Linked DNA regions of Homo sapiens. The protein of the gene in region 3 purifies or fractionates together with the protein of the main gene of each other region. This does not show direct contact. Each region holds a gene or a part of one and is shown on either strand. Other genes may lie near its edges.

The links.
Region 1: the proteins of GMFB (region 3) and OPALIN purify together in Homo sapiens (co-immunoprecipitation; one large-scale study listed by IntAct). This does not show direct contact.
Region 2: the proteins of GMFB (region 3) and ARPC1A purify together in Homo sapiens (co-immunoprecipitation; one large-scale study listed by IntAct). This does not show direct contact.
Region 4: the proteins of GMFB (region 3) and PC purify together in Homo sapiens (co-immunoprecipitation; one large-scale study listed by IntAct). This does not show direct contact.
Region 5: the proteins of GMFB (region 3) and MTR purify together in Homo sapiens (co-immunoprecipitation; one large-scale study listed by IntAct). This does not show direct contact.
Region 6: the proteins of GMFB (region 3) and RRM2B purify together in Homo sapiens (affinity purification with mass spectrometry; one large-scale study listed by BioGRID and IntAct). This does not show direct contact.

Annotation. Positions count from the first base shown.
Region 1 is NC_000010.11:96,349,003-96,352,502, forward strand, and holds part of OPALIN (opalin), read right to left. Parts: intron 2,409-3,500; coding exon 2,376-2,408; intron 825-2,375; coding exon 705-824; intron 1-704. UniProt on the Homo sapiens protein: Central nervous system-specific myelin protein that increase myelin genes expression during oligodendrocyte differentiation. Promotes oligodendrocyte terminal differentiation.
Region 2 is NC_000007.14:99,363,898-99,366,762, forward strand, and holds the end of ARPC1A (actin-related protein 2/3 complex subunit 1A), read left to right. Parts: intron 1-1,993; coding exon 1,994-2,032; 3' UTR 2,033-2,365; downstream 2,366-2,865. UniProt on the Homo sapiens protein: Probably functions as a component of the Arp2/3 complex which is involved in regulation of actin polymerization and together with an activating nucleation-promoting factor (NPF) mediates the formation of branched actin networks.
Region 3 is NC_000014.9:54,473,985-54,476,482, forward strand, and holds the end of GMFB (glia maturation factor beta), read right to left. Parts: 3' UTR 501-2,498; downstream 1-500. UniProt on the Homo sapiens protein: This protein causes differentiation of brain cells, stimulation of neural regeneration, and inhibition of proliferation of tumor cells.
Region 4 is NC_000011.10:66,871,384-66,874,883, forward strand, and holds part of PC (pyruvate carboxylase, mitochondrial precursor), read right to left. Parts: intron 777-3,500; coding exon 641-776; intron 489-640; coding exon 304-488; intron 98-303; coding exon 1-97. UniProt on the Homo sapiens protein: Pyruvate carboxylase catalyzes a 2-step reaction, involving the ATP-dependent carboxylation of the covalently attached biotin in the first step and the transfer of the carboxyl group to pyruvate in the second.
Region 5 is NC_000001.11:236,847,292-236,850,791, forward strand, and holds part of MTR (methionine synthase), read left to right. Parts: intron 1-3,052; coding exon 3,053-3,232; intron 3,233-3,500. UniProt on the Homo sapiens protein: Catalyzes the transfer of a methyl group from methylcob(III)alamin (MeCbl) to homocysteine, yielding enzyme-bound cob(I)alamin and methionine in the cytosol. MeCbl is an active form of cobalamin (vitamin B12) used as a cofactor for methionine biosynthesis.
Region 6 is NC_000008.11:102,228,962-102,232,461, reverse strand, and holds part of RRM2B (ribonucleoside-diphosphate reductase subunit M2 B), read left to right. Parts: intron 1-157; coding exon 158-313; intron 314-3,500.

The DNA.
Region 1 (3,500 bases), on a different chromosome or scaffold from region 3:
TCACTTGTCCAGGATCATATAAATCATAAAGTGGCAGAGTCAGGTTTAGAACCTCAATTTTCAATCTCTTAATTAATGTTTACCCATATGATAACAACCTTGAATGTCAATAAATAGAGAATAGAATTAGAACCCAGAGTCCACATGACACAGTTGTGTCACAACCATGGAACCTTGTTGGATATGAGTCTAGGTGGCTTTTGATTTCTAAGCATAGTCCCCAGAACAGTCTGGCATTGGAGGGGTGGATTGGATGGGGAGGATATAGATTCCCTTGTGATTCTATCATGGTGTCTATCATGGACACCTCAGCCCCTCTTCATCTCCTATCTTTCTTAACGTTATCTCCATCCTTTCTTTGTGAAGCTTGTGCGCTTTTGTTTCTCAACTTTAGAAAGCACACCCACTGTACAGACATGTGTTTGCCATGGCAACAGACATCCTTCTCCACTGCTACTTTTTGTTACCCCAAATACCATCTTTGTCAGGAATTCCTCAACTGACCTGAAGGTTTTATGACAAATCAGCTCTGTCTGGTGCCTAATGTCATGTCTGCAGTGGAAATTATGGCCCAGAAACTTCCAGCATCTTGTCCTCAGGAAATAGACATGGGCCCTGAATTCTGACACCCTTAGTCCAAAAGCCAGTTCACTGAAATACTGGTGGCTGCCTATACATCTGGACCCAAAGAAGCTAGTAATCACCTCCATGGCCTCAATGCTGCTTCTTCTTCGGTGAATCAAAGTAAATAGTAAAGCCACCAGCAGGGCTGTGGCCACCAGCAATGGTATGCCCGCCGCTAATCCAAGAGAGGGCCCACAGTCCTGGCACAGAATGAAAAACACAGGGTCAGAGGAAGCCCAGAGTCTTCAATAATAAAGGAAAAATTCAATAGAATAAAAATAAAACAAAAAATCTGCATGGATCATAAACGTCATATACAAAATCAAAAGGGTAATGAAATACTGTGCAAAAATGTTTGTAACACACATGACAAATGACTTACTTTCATAGGACTTAATTTACACAGTTTAAATCTGTTGGAAAGAGTAATGATCAAGTAGAAAAATGGGCAAAGGATATGAACAGGTATTCTTTAGAACAGAAATACAAATGTCTCTTCAATGTAGGAAAAGCTGAGATACAATTCAGAGCAACAATTAGATGTCATTTTCACCTGTTTGGCTAAAAATAAAAGCTTTTATTATACACCACACTTTTTTTTTTGTTTGAGATGGAGTCTTGCTCTGTTGCCCAGGCTGGAGTGCAATGGCACAGTCTTGGCTCACTGCAACCTCCGCCTCCTGGATTCAAACGATTCTTCTGCCTCAGCCTCCTGAGTAGCTGGGACTACAGGTGCATGCCACCACACCCAGCTAATTTTTGTATTTTTAGTAGAGATGGGGTTTCACTATGTTGGCCAGGCTGGTCTCTAACTCCTGACCTCATGATCTGCCTGCCTTGGCCTCCCAAAGTGCTGGGATTACAGGTTTGAGCCACCATGCCCAGCCATACCACACTATTTTAATATGAATTAAAAAAATTTATTTGCACTTAATGTAAATGACGAGTTAATGGGTGCAGCACACCAACGTGGCACATGTATACATATGTAACAAACCTGCACGTTGTGCACATGTACCCTAGAACTTAAAGTATAATAAAAATAAATAAATAAAAAAGTGACATTTAGCCTTTCAAAAAAAATTTATTTGCAATAAATGCATTAACCTATTAATTTTCAAATTCCCATTTTGCTTTGATCGGAGTGGAAATAGTCATGCTTTTAGTTACATAAGTTTTCAGATTTGCAGACTATCTGGAAATATTGAAGATAATCTGCAGAAACCCTATAAAAGTGCAACTGTTATTTAATAATGGATTCACCTTCACTTCACTTTAGGGGGAAATTGATTTTATTGAAGAATAATAAAGTATATGAATCACAAATATATAAGTGGATGACTTTTCACATGAGGAATACACCCATAAGACCAACACCCAGATCAAGAAACAGAACATTAGCAGTATCTCAGGATCCCCCTCAAATCTCTTCCAGCCTCCTTGTGCGTGACCACTATTCTGAAATCTATTGCCATAGAGTAGTTTTGTCTGTTTTTCAGCATAATATAGATGCAAATATAAGATATGCACTCTTTGTGTCTGGCTTCTTTTGCTCAACCCTTTGTGAAATCCATCTGTGATTTTGCATGTTCTCCCTCACTTTTGAGCGGAGCTGGTCAAGAATAATTCTTGAGCCAGATTCTGTGCTTAGTGACAGTTCACCTATCAAACTTTAAAGCTCAAAACAAATGCTCAAGATGGATGGAGCATTATTATTATCCCCATTTTATAAATTTAAGTGATATAGTTACCGTTTCTTTCCCACCTGTGACAGGAGAGGACGTCTGTATGGAAAAAGAACATATATTGTAAAAGAACAAAAAGTCTATAGAATATACATTATACAAGACAATCTGCCAAAGTTTAGGCTATAAAGCCTAAAGTTTATCCCTTTGCTAAACTTTCTGTTAACAACTACCAAACAGAACCTAACTTGATTGCTTCCCAGGTAAGAATTGGAATAAAATTTGGCTACAAGGAGAAAAGAATTAGGAAATTCAGGCAATGTCTTCATTATTCACCCTGTGGATGTACCGTGACACATTTTACAACTCAAAAGGGCTTCCTCCTGTCCCTAGTCAGCACACCTGGCACACTTTGGGCCTACTTGTCCCCATTGCTAGAAGGGAAACACATATAAATACTGGTGGAAGCAAGGCTCTTTAAGGAAGCCTTGCTTGTTTTCAAGTATGTGATGAAACAAATGGCAGAAGTTGTCAAATATCCATGCTCCTGGGGATAATTCTACATGAAATGAATGCATTACATGTTTCTGGTCCACTGAGTTATTGGTCCAATGAGTTATTGGATTTCACTCATTTATAAGATATTTCAGGCAAGAGTTTACCTTGATTAGGAAATCTAAAGGAATAAAGTTCTGCATGAGAAACTATGTAAACTACACTAAGTGGTATGCTGTGGGATTAAGAGCACAGGTCCTGGGCTCACACTGCCTGCCATAGAACAGCCATTTCTCAATTTACAAGCTAAGGGGTTGCATGTCTCTATCTACACAATATCTACAGGGATAGTAGTAGCTGCCTCTAGGGTTATTAGGAGGATTGAATGAGGAGCAGAACTATGAACTCTTGTCAGCCCTTTACACTTTGCAAAGCTCTGTCCAGATCTGTTATTTATTTAATACTCTCAGCAATCTCATCAAGTATACTGGAGTCCTGGGGCTTGGACTTTTGACAATTATTAACTCCATTTTACAAAAAAAAAATGTAATAGATCTCAGAGAAGTTATGGGGCTTGTCCAAGGTTTCACAGATAATCATAACTCTAATCTGAACTTGGATGTTTGACTTCCAAGCCCAGACCTCTTTCCCAGAGAGCTCCCATCAAAAGAAGGTTTTGATGACCAGGCACTGAAA
Region 2 (2,865 bases), on a different chromosome or scaffold from region 3:
AAATCTAGTATACAGTTTAATGTCCTAATGTAAGACATTAAACTGGAAATCTCTCATTTTTTTTTCTTTCTTTTTGAGATGGAGTCTTGTTCTGTCACCCAGGCTGCAGTGCAGCGGTGCAATATTGGCTCACTGCAACCTCCGCCTCCCGGGTTGGAGCGATTCTCCTGCCTCAGTCTCCCAAGTAGTTGGGATTACAGGAGCACACTACAACACCCGGCTATGTTTTGTATTTTTAGTACAGACGGGGTTTCACCATGTTGGCCAAGCTGGTCTTGAACTCCTGGCCTCATGTGATCTGCCCACCTTGGCCTCCCAAAGTGGTGGGATTACAGGCGTGAGCCACCATGCCAGCCTTGGAGATCTCTCTCTTTTTTTTTTTTTTTTTTTTTGAGACAGAGTTTCGCTCTTGTTGCCCAGGCTGGAGTGCAATGGCAGAATCTCGGCTCACCACAACCTCCGCCTCTGGGGTTCAAGCGATTCTCCTGCCTCAGCCTCCCAAGTAGCTGGGATTACAGACATGTGCCACCACGCCCAGCTAATTTTGTGTTTTTAGTAGAGATGGGGTTTCTCCACGTTGGACATGCTGGTCTCGAACTCCCAACCTCAGGTGATCCACCCGCCTCAGCCTCCCCAAGTGCCAGGATTACAGGCGTGAGCCACTGCGCCCAGCCAGAGATCTCTTTAAAACCTAAAAGTCATCCGCAGAAGAACGGCACATTCTCAGTGAACTGGAATTTTTACTTCTAGATGTCCATTTATTCATTGAGGAAAAATGGAGTGCTGTTTTGGAAACAGGCCCTATTGGACACCAGCCCAGGTTTAACTATATAGATATATATTTATAGCTGACACTAATTAATTTAATAAACATTTAGTACATATCTCCTGGGTGCCATGCATGATGCTGAGCACTGAGAATATCCAATCTGAATGAGCCTGTCTGGTAGAAGAGAGAGGTGGATACGGGGGCTGGGTAGGGGATTCGGCAGAGCTCAGAAGAGAAGCCAGTGCCTCTGTTTTCACACAGAGGAATCTAGGGGGATGCGTGGACTGCAGGGAACAGGTTGCACCTGAGCGGCATCCTGAGTTGCGATGGGTTTTGGAGGGAGGGACTGTGAGTTGAGAAGACACAGGCGAGCATCCTCGGCTGCAAGTGCAGCACACCCAGGGCAGCCCTGGGCTTCAGAGAGCGCACACTGCCTCTGAGGCGCTGCCCGTGCTGTGGTCCTCCGGAAGCACAGATGGAGCTAGAAAAAAGAGCTCTAGGTAGCCAGGCGCAGTGGCTCATGCCTGTCTTCCCAGCACTTTGGGAGGCCGAGGTGGGAGAATCGCTTGAGGCCAGGAGTTTTGAGACCAGTTTGGGCAACATAGCGTGACCCCATCTCTATAAAAAAGCCAGGTGCAGCCAGGCGCACTGACCCACTCCTGTAATCCCAGCACTTTGGGAAGCTGAGGCTCGTTTCTCCTCACTGCTTTCCTGTCTTGAGCACAGGAGTTCGAGACCAGCCTGGGCAACACAGTGAGATCCTGTCTCTATTTAAAAATATACATATATATATTTTTAAAAACCAGGTGCAGTGACGCATGCCTTTAGTTGCAGCTACTTGAGAAGCTGAGGCAGGAGGATCACTTGAGCCCAGGAGTTGGAGGCTGCAGTGAGCTGTGGTCACACCACTGCACTCCAGCCTGGGGCAACAGAGCAAGACCCTATCTTTAAAAAAAAAAAAAAAGAGGAGTGAGGAGTGTGCCCAGAGCCTGTGTGTGTGGCAGTGGGGAAAAGGCACACCTGGCCTGGAGGAGCCAGCAGGGGGAGCCCCGGCCTGGAGTGTCTCTGCGGGGTGAGTCCTGGGAGATCCTGTTTCAGGTGGGGCAGGGCCAGGTTCAGGGTGGGGACAGGCAGAACCTTCCCTGAGGAAGAGGGAGTGGTGTCATACCTACCTCGGGGTAGACACTCCTCAGTGACATCAGTGCTCTTCCCACCTTTTCCAAGACCCTCGAGTCTTCCATCCAGGGCCTCCGGATAATGTGAAGCTGAGTGAGCCTCCGCCATCCAGCATGACAAACTGTGGCCGACCGCAGCTGTGCCGTGGCACGATGGCGAGGAAGCCAGCCCCAAGGAAACACTGAAAACACATATCACGCCAATGCCGTGTGGTTTTGTTTGAATATAAAATTGGTGAAAGTGTTGGTTTTTTTAAGGCAGTAATTTTTTTGTTTGTTTTTTTGCGATTTCATTCCATTCTTGACCAAAGCTTCTCTTTAAGTAGTTTATTATGGAAAATTGTCACACTAACTTAAAAGACAGGGTGAGGGAGATATGTAAATTGTCCACTAGAAAATTAAATAAAAGAACTGAATGTGGTTTTGGTTTTGTTTCCTTGTAGTATTTCAATTTTTAGTAGAAAAATATGAGCGAATTCTTCATTCGATTCAGTTTTTTTTAGGCAAAATCTTAGATCCTTGGTTTCTTAAATTGTACCATTCTATACAACCTTGAACCAAAAAGCACCATTTAGTGAGGGGTGAGAGAGAACCGTTTCTGAACATTGCAATACTTCTGCAAAGTAGGTTGTGTCGGTCTGTTTTGTGTTGCAATAAAGGAATACCTGAGGCTGGGTAATTTGTTTAAGAAAAAAGATTTATTTGGCACACGGTTCTGCCGGTTGGACAAGAAGCATGGTGCCTGCGTCTGCTTTTGGGGAAGCCTCAGGAAGGTTTTACTCATGGCAGAAGGCGAAGGGGAAGCAGGCGTGTCCCATGGCGGGAGAGGATGCAAGAGAGAGTGGGGAGGACCAGGCTCCTTGAAACAACCAGGTCATAGAGTGAGAACACACTCATTCCTGCCAGGGGGCACCAAGCCAT
Region 3 (2,498 bases):
CTATTACAACATACACAATCACAAGTACATGGCAAACTCTAAAAACTATGTTATTAGTGATTTGTATTCATTCAGTAGATACCTATTGAACATATACCATATAGTACAGTTGGTAATAAAGGTAGGACGGGTTGTCAATGGGTGTTTAATACATAGTGATAAGCTATATTCAATTAAAAAAACCTTCAATTTGATTTCTTACGAAGTATACAGCTCTCCTAACTTCGAATTCTCCCTTTGAAAGCAAGCGTTCATTGTTTGAAATAGCTCTGTCTGTCCCTACTACTGTTTACTGACATTTTCTACATTTTAGCATCAGACCAAGTTTTAGAAATTTTTATAACTTGATTATCTTCTCCTTCCACCAAGCTGCCAAATGACTTGTTTATTTTGCCTCTCAGTTTGTCCAGATAAAGTTTATGGCTCACACAAATCTAGCCAGGTACATACCAGTAACTCCAAAGGGGGAAAGAGGTGAGTAAAAAAAGAAAAGCTGGAAGTCTTTTAATGTTAACATTTTATTTAAACCAGTACAAGCACCATGCTTAACAAAAGACTGTCCAAAATAAACATGCAATATGAACTAGCAGAGACTGAAACCACAGCTTAAGGAGTTGTGTCAGTTGTTGGTTTTGTTAAACGATGACAGAGAACTGTTAAAATTCACAAGACTAAACCATTAATGTTTCAAGCCTCCTGAATGAGATTATCTTGGACCATCTAAATCAGTGGGAACTGCCCTGGCATGTTAATGATCTCAAACAATATTCAAGTAATTATATTTATATGAATTATAATCCAAAAAGCAATAAAATACAATTTCTATCACAAGTTTACTGTATATGAGCACTGATTTGAAATGTCAAATGGCATAATAAAAACAAATTTCTCAAGAATATTCAGCTTGGGAGCATTGGTTTTAAGCGGTCTAGAAGATTACTACATTCTTCCAGAAATACAAAATAAGATTTGTCCAGAAATGTTTGAAACACATCCTCACAAAAGTTGTAATGGCTCAAACTCTATAAATTCCAGTATTATCAGTCTATTGAACAAATAGGGAAAGCAACCATAGTAAGAATACTTGAATTGATAGAATATGAGTTACTCTCTACTTCCACCAAATATCAGCATTTAAACTCTTATGAAAATATCTATTCATCACTAGTCCACATATGGATTAATGACATTGCTCAGGTTTTAAAAGCAGTCCAAACATTTTTTAAGTACACCTTCCTTAATATCTATATGGGTTGGGGGGAACAGCCAAATTTAATTTGGCAATAAACTCCCCTAACTGGAAATTTTTAGCTAAAGTGTCAGACAAGGATACAGTTTATGGCTACATTTGACTCCTGAAAATAGGAGATAAAAAAGGAGGGAAAAGTGCTGACACACATTTTGCCACACAGATTATTTAGTAATGACAGTAAAAAATTTAGCAACACACACTTAAACAAGAGTATGTTTAACTGCACTAGGCATTTAGTAAACTTTTAGAACTAGACAATTTGAACATTTTAGAAGTCAATTAAACAAAAACAGTCAACCAACTTTTTTCCTAATATAATTGCGTCAATACCAGAACAAAGTGATCACTATTCAAAACTCAGACATTTTGGAATTTCAGCATAGTAACCTGAGAAGTTTTCTTCGTATGTATTTTTGTTGTCATGGAAACCACACTAAATAATACTGTGATTACCAGTTGGTTCTATTTTGACATTAGATGCTATGCAGAACTTATGCAGGGCCAAAAATTTCAAAACTAACACTGACTTAGAAGACCACGAAGGAGGATCCCAGGAAAAAAGTTGCTGCTAAAAAGGACTCAGATTTAAGGCTGAATGGGAATGGTTGTACCAGAAAGATAACGGAATGTAAAAACTGGAATTATGAAATCTGGAGTTATTATTTGGGAAATGGCAGAAAAAAAGACAGTAAATACGAAACATACTTGAAAAGAACAATGCAAAATTTAGTAAGATGAAAGGGAAATCTATATAAATGTTTGAGAACATTTTAGAGCACGGGATTTGTAAATTTCCCCATAGGACAGATGGAATAAAAATGTCCTACTGATCCTCTAACCTCAATCTGTTGTCTTGCCAAAAACATGTTATTAATTAGGAGTCAGACAAGCTCAAAAAAGCATGGTTTATCACAGCTCTTTGCTCCTGTTAAAGACAGTAGCGGAACTAAGAGTGCTAACGTATGGCAGGTCAATATTATCTGACATTATGGAGGACCTCCAAATTTAAAAATAAGCAAAACTAAAACATGCAAGACAAAATAAGGAACTTCATTAAAAAATACATTCTTGCAGCACTAGTTTCTCTTACTGCTGCAAAACAGGTGAAACAAAACCTCATTTCCTTCATTCAAAAACATTAAAAACACTCTCCACTCACTTGGATTACATGTGCATTCCTACAGAATTATATGCATGTTATTCTCCAATATCAAAATACCTGTTTAAAGAATTTTTAAACTTCCTG
Region 4 (3,500 bases), on a different chromosome or scaffold from region 3:
CAATAAACCGGACCCCTGCATCCTGGCAGGCCTGGGCGAAGTCCGCTCGCTCAGAGAGGAACCCGTAGCCAGGGTGCACTGCATCTACGTTGTTCTCCTGCAGGTGGGGGTCAGGGAGAGGACGGTACCTTGCAGTCCCTTCCAAGGCCTCGGCCAGCCTCTTCCCCTGCCTAACCTGCTGAGCTGCATCCGTTTACCCACCCACGCACAGAGGCGCTGAGCACGCCAGCCTCAAGAGACCCCCGCGGCAACTAAGACTCCCTGGTCCCTGCTGTCCAGGCCCAGCCAGGCCACTGGGCTCACCTTGGCCACCTTGATGATGTCTGGGATGTGCAGGTAGGCCTGCACGGGGGCCAGGCCGCGGCCGATGAGATAGGCTTCATCTGCTTTCTGCCGGTGCATCTGGCCCGTGTCCTGCTCAGAGTAGATGGCTACGGTGCGGATGCCCAGCTCCGTGCAGGCCCGGAACACACGGATGGCAATCTCACCTAGAGGGCAAAGAAACAAGAAGTTAGATTCCTAGGTCCTAGGAGAAGCAGAAAGGGGAGTGGGAAGCCAGGGCCTGGGGCAGTGAGTGGGAGAAGAATGCCAAGGCTGGGGCGGCCATGAGGCTCCTCTCACCGGCCCCACTGGTGCTCACCTCTGTTGGCCACCATGACTTTCTTGATGGGCTTATACTCCAGGCGCCGGACATTTGGGGAGGCAGCGGGGGCGGTGGAGGTTCGGCGGATTCCCAGGAGCCTCAGGCCCCCATGGACTGTTCGGAACTTCAGCATCTAGGGAGGGAAGTTAGAGCCCAGGTTAGCGCAGCCTCAGCACTGAGGCTCCTCAGAATGAGTGAGGGCCCTTCCCAACCCCACAGTGGCCCCACAGAAAGGCTAGCACCATCTACCTCCTGATGCCTGGCCAAGCCCAACATTTCCTGGCTCTAGAGAAGGGAGCAAATCCAACCCCAAATGGAACCCCCAGCTCAGCCTGATATCCTAACTGTGACTTTATTGTTGTAGAGACAGGGTCTCCCTATGTTGCCTAGGCTGGTCGCAAATGATCCTCCCACCTCAGCCTCCTGAGTAGTTAAGACTACAGGTGTGAGCTGCCGTACCCAGCATAATATGCACTATAACTTTTAAAAGTATCAGGTTGGCCCACCCTGGCTAACACGGTGAAACCCCGTCTCTACTAAAAATACAAAAAAAAAAAAATTAGCCGGGCGTGGTGGCGGGCATCTGTAGTCCCAGCTACTTGGGAGGCTGAGGCAGGAGAATGGCATGAACCCAGGAGGCAGAGCTTGCAGCGAGCCGAGATCGTGCCACTGTACTCCAGCCTGGGCGACAGGGCAAGACTCCGTCTCAAAAAAAATAAAAGTATCAGGTTGGGCGCGGTGGCTCATGCCTGTAATCCCAGCACTTTGGGAGGCTGAAGTGGGAGGAGCACCTTACATCAGGAGTTCGAGACCAGCCTGGCCAACATGGTGAAACCCCGCCTCTTACTAAAAATATAAAAATTAGCCGGGCATGGTGGCACACGCCTGTAATTCTAGCTACTCAGGAGGCTGAGGCACGAGAATCGCTTGAACCTAGAAGACAGAGGTTGCAGTGAGCTGAGATTGCGCCACTGCCCTCAGCCTGGGTGACATCAAGACTCTGTCCCAGGAAAAAAAAAAAGTATAATACTTCAGGTTGGGCACGGTGGCTCACACCTGTAAACCCAGCACTTTGGGAGGCCAAGGCACATTTGTGTGAGCTCAAGAGTTTGAAACCCACCTGGGCAACATGGTGAAACCCTGTCTCTACAGAAAATATAAAACTTAGCCAGGCATGGTGGCACATGCCTGTAATCCCAGCTACTTGGGAGGGTGAGGCATGAGAATCACTTGAGCCTGGGAGGTGGAGGTTGCAGTGAGCTGAGATGGCACCACTGTACCAGTCTGGGTGACACAGCAAGACTCCATCTTTAAAAAATATATATATATTATATATAATATATTATATATAAAATATAAAATATTATATATAATATAATATAAATATATATAATATATTATATATATTATATATTATATTATATATAAAATATATATTATATATAATATAATATATAATATTATATATATTATATAATATTATATATTATATTATATATTATAATATATATTATATATAATATTATAATATTATATAATATTATATATATATTTAAATCAACTGACGACAACTTATATCCCTGAATGCAAAGAGGCTTCAGAGGTTGGCCAGCCCTTCATTTGTAAAATGAAGGAAACCAAGGTACAGTGGAGACTAAAAAGACAGCTGCCCAGCACAGAGCCCAAGCCAAACCAGACACACTCTTTTCACCCCTGCATCTGGGCCTCATCTAACCATCTGATTCATTTCTTTCTTTTGAGACGGAGTCTCGCTCTTGTTGCCCAGGCTGGAGTGCAATGGCATGATCTCTGCTCACTGTAACCTCTGCCTCCCAGGTTCAGGCAATTCTCCTGCCTCAGCCTCCCAAGTAGCTGGGATTATAGGCATGCACCACCATGCCTGGCTAATTTTGTTTTTGTTTTGTTTCTTTTCTTTTTTCTTTTTTTTTTTGAGACAGAGTCTTGCTCTGTCACCCAGGCTGGAGCGCAATGGTGCGATCTCGGCTCACTGCAACCTCCGCCTCCTGGGTTCGAGTGATTCTCCTGCCTCAGCCTCCCGAGTAGCTGGAATTACAGGCACCCGCCACCACGCCCAGCTAATTTTTGTATTTTTAGTAGAGACAGGGTTTCACCATCTTGGCCAGGCTGGCCTCGACCTCCTGACCTCAGGCGATCCACCTGCCTTGGCCTCCCAAAGTGCTGGGATTACAGGTGTGAACCACCACGCCTGGCTGTATTTTAAATAAAGATGGGGTTTCACCATGTTGGCCAGGCTGGTCTTGAACTCCTGACCTCAAGTGGTCTACCCGCCTCGGCCTCACAAAGTGCTAGCATTACAGGTGTGAGCCACCACACCCGGCCGATCTGATTCATTTCTTAGAAAACGTTTAAAACACTTGACTCAGCCATTTTGTTTTAAGTAAGGAACATAAAAACATACTCAAGAAATGAAACAAATATTGCAAAAACCTTAGTGCCATATTACAGCCAACAACCTAGAAAAGGGGAAATAAAGACAGAAGAAAAAGAAAAGAGAAGAAACAAGGAAATAAGTAGAAGAAAGAGAAGAGGAGGAGGAGGAAAGACCCACAGCCAGGGGAGAAAAACAGAAAACCCCACTAGGGGCAGACCTTATGCCAGGCACAGTTCTAAGCCTTAGGAGTCGAGAACACAACAGTGAAGGGTTCTGCTCATGGAAGATGAATGGCAGTGAAAGGAGCAAAGAAAAGAAAAACAAGACACAAATCAGAACATTTCAGATCACAAGTGCCTGGAAGATAAGAAACAGGTGACATTTTGCGAATGATCTGGGGCGGGTGCAGGGGTTTGGGGGCTGGATATTAGAAAAGGCCTCTCT
Region 5 (3,500 bases), on a different chromosome or scaffold from region 3:
ACCTCTGAAGTTAGCCCTGTTCGATCTCTGCTCCTTGTCAGACTACATTAAAGAATCTAGATGTCTTCTACACATTGTCCTTCTCTTCCTCACAGTGTCTGCCTTGATGACCAAATCAAAAATTGTTTTATTGCATTACTGCCTGAGTGTGTGATATTTTAGCAGAATCTGAGCCATGAGCTTCTTAAGTAAAGCCTTCTACTCACTGGTCACAGTCTAGCTTCTCTATGGCTTAAGAGTAAACCTGTTTGATAAAGCTATAAATGGCATTTATTCCTTCCTTCTTGCTGCTTAGAATCTCACTGAGTTTTTCTTCTACTCCAACTGAAGAAGGTGCCACATCTCACCTGTTGGTGGTTCTCACCTGGCTTTATATTAGCATCACTAAGGGGCTTTTACAAAACACTTGCTGAGACCCCATCTCCAGATTCTGATTTAACTGGTTCAGGGTGAGGTGTTACTATTATAAAAAACAAGCAAACAGAAATCCCTCCAGGGTATTGTAATGTGCAACCAGAGTTGAAAGCCCTTCCTGATGGAGTAAAGCTGCCATTCCGTTGTTTTACTGAACTTCTATTCTGGATCTCTGAAATCCACCAGCACGATTGAGGCTTTATTAGTGTGTCTGTCCCACAGCCCTGGTGAGGAGTAAGACAGAAGCTTGGTGAACCTTACGTGATATGAGATATGACCTGCTCCTGACAAAGGCCTGTACACCAATGCCGTGTTCACTCTGAGAGTCATTGTTTAATCAAGTGACAGAGGTTGAGTATCTGTTAATGTGGCACAGATACTGTGCTAGACGCCATGAGAACAATTTGACAAGGGCTTCATCCTTATGGAGGTTAGAGTTGATGACTCTGTTTTGGTTCTAGAAATGAATTCCTGTCCTGTGAGGATGCACCTGCTTGTCCCACAAGCAGGGCTGTCTTTGGTATACAGCTGGGCCCTACACCCTACTCTCCTGTGGGTAACATACTGTTCACTTCAACCTGCCCTGCTTGGCCAGATAATATTCATGGCTCAGATGAGGAATGACCAGGACCTTGACTTCTTCATCTACCAACCAGACTAGGTTACTCAGTAATACTAGTAGCATTGGTCGCCCCTGTGCCTTCTCTCTTAGTGAGCTTAGATGAGCCATGAACCTAGAGCCTAGAACTCTATTGGGCTGTCTGGTGAAGGGTAGACTTTAAAAGTTCAAGCCTAAAGGCAGCTGCAAATGGGCTGTTTCTGACCAGTTTTTTCTGACATACATCTCAGTCTCAACCTTAACCTTTTCACTCTAACTGAAGGCAGAGGAAGTAAGCATTGAGAAAATTCCATTAAGGAAGACGAAAGCTCGCCACCTTCCCTAAAGCCTGGGTGCAGTGAGGCCACAGAGACCACTTCCTGTCTCCCTTTCCCTGGGCCATTTTGTCTGCTAAGTCCTGGAGGCACTTCCCTCCCAAGTAGAGGTGAAGTCTCACCCCACCAGCTGCAGAGAGCGATTAAAGAGACCAAAGAAAACAGTTGAAAAAGAATACCAAAGTAGTAAGTGATCAAAAGGCTAGATCTAAGAGAGAGTTCTTTTCATAATTCCCCTACTCCTCATTTCTGTTGTCTAGGGCCTCACTAGATGCACTTGACCTATGTCCGTGTCCCTACCCCCTCATCTCCACAGAAGTCTGCAATATAGATTGCAGTAGGGTTGGCCATTTTTCAAGAACATTTTTCGCGTTCATTGAGAATTGACCTTCAGAATTGTGACTTATTTTTTCTTATCTCTGGAGTGATAGCAAGTAATCATTTTTTAAGAGTAGATTTGATTTTTCATACAACCAGAAATAATTCAGGATGTAATTTGGTGAATACCCTGTGTTGAGGTTGTAAATTTGATCTGAAGACAGTTTCCATGACAAAGTTCAGAAATACTTTGAGTAAAAGCAGCATTCATACATAATGTTGAGCACCTACTTTGACAGGCACTGCTCAGGGCACTGGGGATAAAGCAAGACTGGCATTCTATCTAGGGGAGAGGAGTTTACCAATTAACAAGTAATAAAACAACGAAAAATACTAAAGATGTTGCCAAAATAATACAATTTCTGGAAAGAAATACTCCGAAGAAGAATGGAGGAGGTGGGGAAGGGTGGAAGTGGCTGGTTTAGAGAGGGTGATTTAAGGTAGGCTCTGAAAAGGGGGCACTTGGGCAGAAGCCTTAGTTCTGTGAAGCACAAAGCCATGTCATGGTATGTTCTGGTAGTGGCAGCAATAAATGAAAGTTGCTGAGGGAGGAACAAGCTTGACGGGTTTCAAAAACACCAAAGGAGCAATGTAGGAGGTGCGGAGTAGAGGAGAGGGCAAATGGTAGGAGATGAGATTGGAGATGGAGGCTGAGATTCTGAGGCTTTTGGGAAGCAGCTGGGGGATGAGCCTTGCCGGAGTTAGTGTTTTGCCTTTTAGGGACATTATTTTGAAGGTAAAGACTAATTTGTATTTATGACTTAAGACACATGTTAGGCCAGTGTTAAAATGGGTGAAGGTGAGGAATAAATGCATATCCTTGAATATGCTTAGAATGTTTTTGCAAGAAGATCTGAGAAAGCAATGGCAGTGTTTCCTGGGTGATAGGTTGTGACACTGCTGTCAGGTCAAGAGAGGAAGGGGCACTTACATGTTAATCTCTTCTTTAGTAGTATTTGATTTTTTATCATATGCATGTATTTTTAGAAGCTTTTTCATAATATACCATATGTGTGTATATGTTTAAGGTTTGATTTTTTGCAGAAAGAGTATAGCTGCTGTGTTTGTGAAAACACAAAGAGATCTTTAAACCAGTCTCTCCTCTGAGATAATTTGATAAGTGATCGGAAGCTGCTTGGCATTTAGATTTCTGTGAAATCCAAGCATTGACACTTGAGTGTTTTCAGTGAGTGAAATGTGCTCTAATGTATAACACTTAATATTTTAATATTAATATTTTATTAAAATAAAATAACAGGTATTTAATATTAATATTTTAATAGATAATTTTTCTATTTCAAACTACATCTTTTGCTCTTTTCCCTAGGCAACAGAAACAGACACAAAAATCAGAGTGTGCACCCGGGCCTACCATCTGCTTGTGAAAAAACTGGGCTTTAATCCAAATGACATTATTTTTGACCCTAATATCCTAACCATTGGGACTGGAATGGAGGAACACAACTTGTATGCCATTAATTTTATCCATGCAACAAAAGTCATTAAAGTAAGTGTAGGCATGTTCTCTCCCAAGTCATGGCTCAAATTTGTCCCATGGGTCTAATGAATGGTTAGAACTAACTTATATATTTATTGGCTGATGAAATGTTAACATTCTTAGTTAGTAAATTGTTTTTCTGAAATGTAGGAGACCTTATTTTTTTTCTTTAGTAGAGTTTTAACTTGTGTAACAAACAGACTGGAGAACATAACAGAGCCTGATGAACTCGCTTGAACCCAGGAGGGTGGAGGTTGCATTGAGCTGGGATCACGCC
Region 6 (3,500 bases), on a different chromosome or scaffold from region 3:
CAGTATTAGTCAGCTACCAGGTAACAGTAAGGATTCAACCCAGGCAGACAGGCTCTCAAACCAATGCCGTCTCCCTGACTTCCTTAGATGTATGTTTAGGTATGAATAAAGAAGAAATGTCTATATAAAAGGCGTGTTTGTACTTTATTTTTCAAAGAGATCATCTTCAGACACCAACGAAAGTGAAATAAAGTCAAATGAAGAGCCACTCCTAAGAAAGAGTTCTCGCCGGTTTGTCATCTTTCCAATCCAGTACCCTGATATTTGGAAAATGTATAAACAGGCACAGGCTTCCTTCTGGACAGCAGAAGAGGTACGTGGCATTGCCTCCAAGAGCATTCACATCCTATAGTGCAGTGTTCCTTCTTGTTTTACAGGATATTGAATAACTTTAACTTATACATTGAAGAAGATCAGTTGTAGAAGATAAGTGTTGGAATTACTGAGACTAAATATGATGTTCTCAATGTTTTAGTTTAGATTACTATCTATAAACAAGTTTTCTGCTGCAACAATGGCATCTAATTCTGCCAGATTTTTATTTCCAATATATTAGAACATTTTTTTTCTTTTTCTTTTTTTTTTTTTTTTTTGAGACAGAGTCTCACTCTGTCACCCAGGCTAGAGTGCAGTGGCGCGATCTCAGCTCACTGCAAACTCCACCTCCCGGGTTCAAGCGATTCTCCTGCCTCAGCTTCCTGAGTAGTTGGGATTACAGGCGCCAGCCACCACGCCCAGCTAATTTTTGTATTTTTAGTAGAGATGGGGTTTCACCACATTGGCCAGGCTGGTCTCAAACTCCTGACCTTGTGATCCACCTGCCTCAGCCTCCCAAAGTGCTGGGATTACAGGCATGAGCCACCACGCCCAGCCAACATTTTCTATTTTTAAACAGACTTTTAGTTTGATATGGCCAAGTAAGACTTGTCTGACTAGTCTTACAAGGTCAGCAGAATAAGTAAAATTGCAGCTGTAGTCAAAAAATGAGTGAAAGCTGTAGCAACTCTGCTTTCAATTGAGAGATTTATCTGATTGTACAAAATGAGCCGCTGCATGAAGAGTTTGATCCTCTAGGCTGTGGACTCACTCCCGAGTCAGCCAGGTGGAACTCACAGTGCTGCTCCCAGTTTGGCCCTGCCCTCAGCTACATCAAACGTGACAGAGTTGCCACTAATAGATCAGCTGTAGAAAGCTTTTTGTTAATTCCACCTGGGAGATCAGTTGAACACAGCAAACTAGAAAATATTTGCTGGTTGGTAAGGACAGTGGTCATGAAAATGATTGCCCTGTAGTCTAACTGAACAAATAGTTATTGTCTTGATCTTTAAATATAATGGGTGATACCTATACAGCACTCTTGTTCTGTATATGTTTGTATATGTATCTCTATAGATAGATGTATCTATTTGGATAGATAGATTTGAATCTATTTTTCAAGACATTAATTCTATAAATGTTAAACACATGCTGTTAAGAATGCAGGCTATGGGGTCAGACTGCCTAGGTACAAATCCTGTGCCACTACTTACTAGCTATGGAACTGGGAAAGTTACATAACCTCTCTGTGTATCCTCATCAGTAAATTAGGCTAATTGTACTTGGCTATTTGTGTTGTTATGAGGATTTATGAGATATTTAAAATGGTAGTTGACACTTAGTAGGCACTAAATAAATGTAAACTATTATTTTATGCACAGAAGGGGGAAAATTTAACCTAGAAATCAGAAGGCACCAGTGTTTGAAGCTTCTATTACACTAATTTTACCCACTTACCCATCTTTGTTATATTGTAGTGTTATATTGTCAACATCTTTGTTATATTATAGTTGACATATAGAGCAAAAAACCAAACCACACAAAAACAAACACCCAATATTTTCATACGTGGTCATAATGCTTGACACACCTGACTGTCCCTAACTGTCTGTGGTTTTTAGAAAGGTTTTTTGTTAGATACGGTTCAGAGAACGAGTGGAATACGCAGGTGGCTTTTTCGTTCATTATGTTAAAAAGGTACTTAGGATTCTTAGGATTCTTGAAATTCATTTGGAAATTAACTTGCATCTTTTAGCAAAGGTAATATGTGACCTGTAACAAAGCAACACTAATTTTTAAAAACTGAAATCTACAGGTTGGTACGTGTTCTGTAGCTAATTATAGGACGATTCAAATACATATTTTGAAGATAAATCAAACACATTTTTAGTTCCACATATTTTTCATTTACAAATTATGTAAGTTACCATTTAGTCAGCTTAAATGGTTGAGCTTAATTCTTAAATATGGCTGATCAACAGAAACCCTGATCAAAAGACAAAAGTCTGGGGTTTGGGACTTTTTTCTTTAAAGCCACTCAGGCAGTTATGATAATTGTCTAGTTTGGAATCAGTATTTAAATGATGAAATTGAGAATTTGCTCAAATAAGAAAAAGCTAGGCAGGAAGGGAATATTTCCAATGTAGTGTAAATAAAATTTAGAAGACCTTTGAAACTGAGTGTTCAAAGAAATAATTTTAATATTTAAGAGGAAGCATCTTACAATATTAACATTTAATATCAAATATATAATATATAAGAGGTCGAGCATGGTGGCTCACACCTGTAATCCAAGCACTTTGGGAGGCTAAAGTGGGCAGATCACTTGAGGTCAGGAGTTTGAGACCAACCTGGACAACATGGTAAAACCCTGTCTCTAGTAAAAATACAAAAATTAGCCAGGCGTGGCAGCAGGTGCCTGTAATCCCAGCTACTCAGGAGGTTGAGGCAGGAGAATCGCTTGAGCCCAGGTAGCAGAGGCTGCAGTGAGCCCAGATCATGCCACTGTATTCCAGCCTGGGCAACAGAGTGAGACTGTCTCCGAAAAAAAACCTGAGGGGTTATAATATATATGAATGAAGAAGATGTCCTTCAGTTAAACCTGAGTTGAGCTTTTAATAGAACAGAACTTGATTTTTAGGTTGCATATTTTAAAAGATGAAGACAAATATTTCCTCCACCCTGCTCCGTTGTATCCCCAGTGCTTAGCACGGTGTCAGGTGTGCAGTAAGTGCTCAGCAAACACTTAAAGAATAAATTAGTGGGAAAAAGGATTTGGAAAATAGCATGTGATTAAAAGATTGGGACATTAGTCCTTTTTGGAAAGGTCAAAGAGATTGAGGCTTGAGGCTTTGTGGGTTTTTTTTTTTTTGTTGTTGTTGTTGTTTTGTTTTTGAGACAGAGTTGCACTCTGTTGCCAGGCTGGAGTGCAATGGCACGATCTTGGCTCACTGCAACCTCCTCCTCCTGGGTTCAAGCGATTCTCCTGCCTCAGCCTCCCAAGTAGCTGGGACTACAGGCATGCGCCACCATGCCTAGCTAATTTTGTATTTTTAGTAGAGACAGGGTTTCACTATGTTGACCAGGTTGGTCTCAATCTCTTGACCTCATGATCCACTCACCTTGGCCTCCCAAAGTGCTGGGATTACAGGCGTGAGCTACCGTGCCCAGCCGAGGGTTTGTTA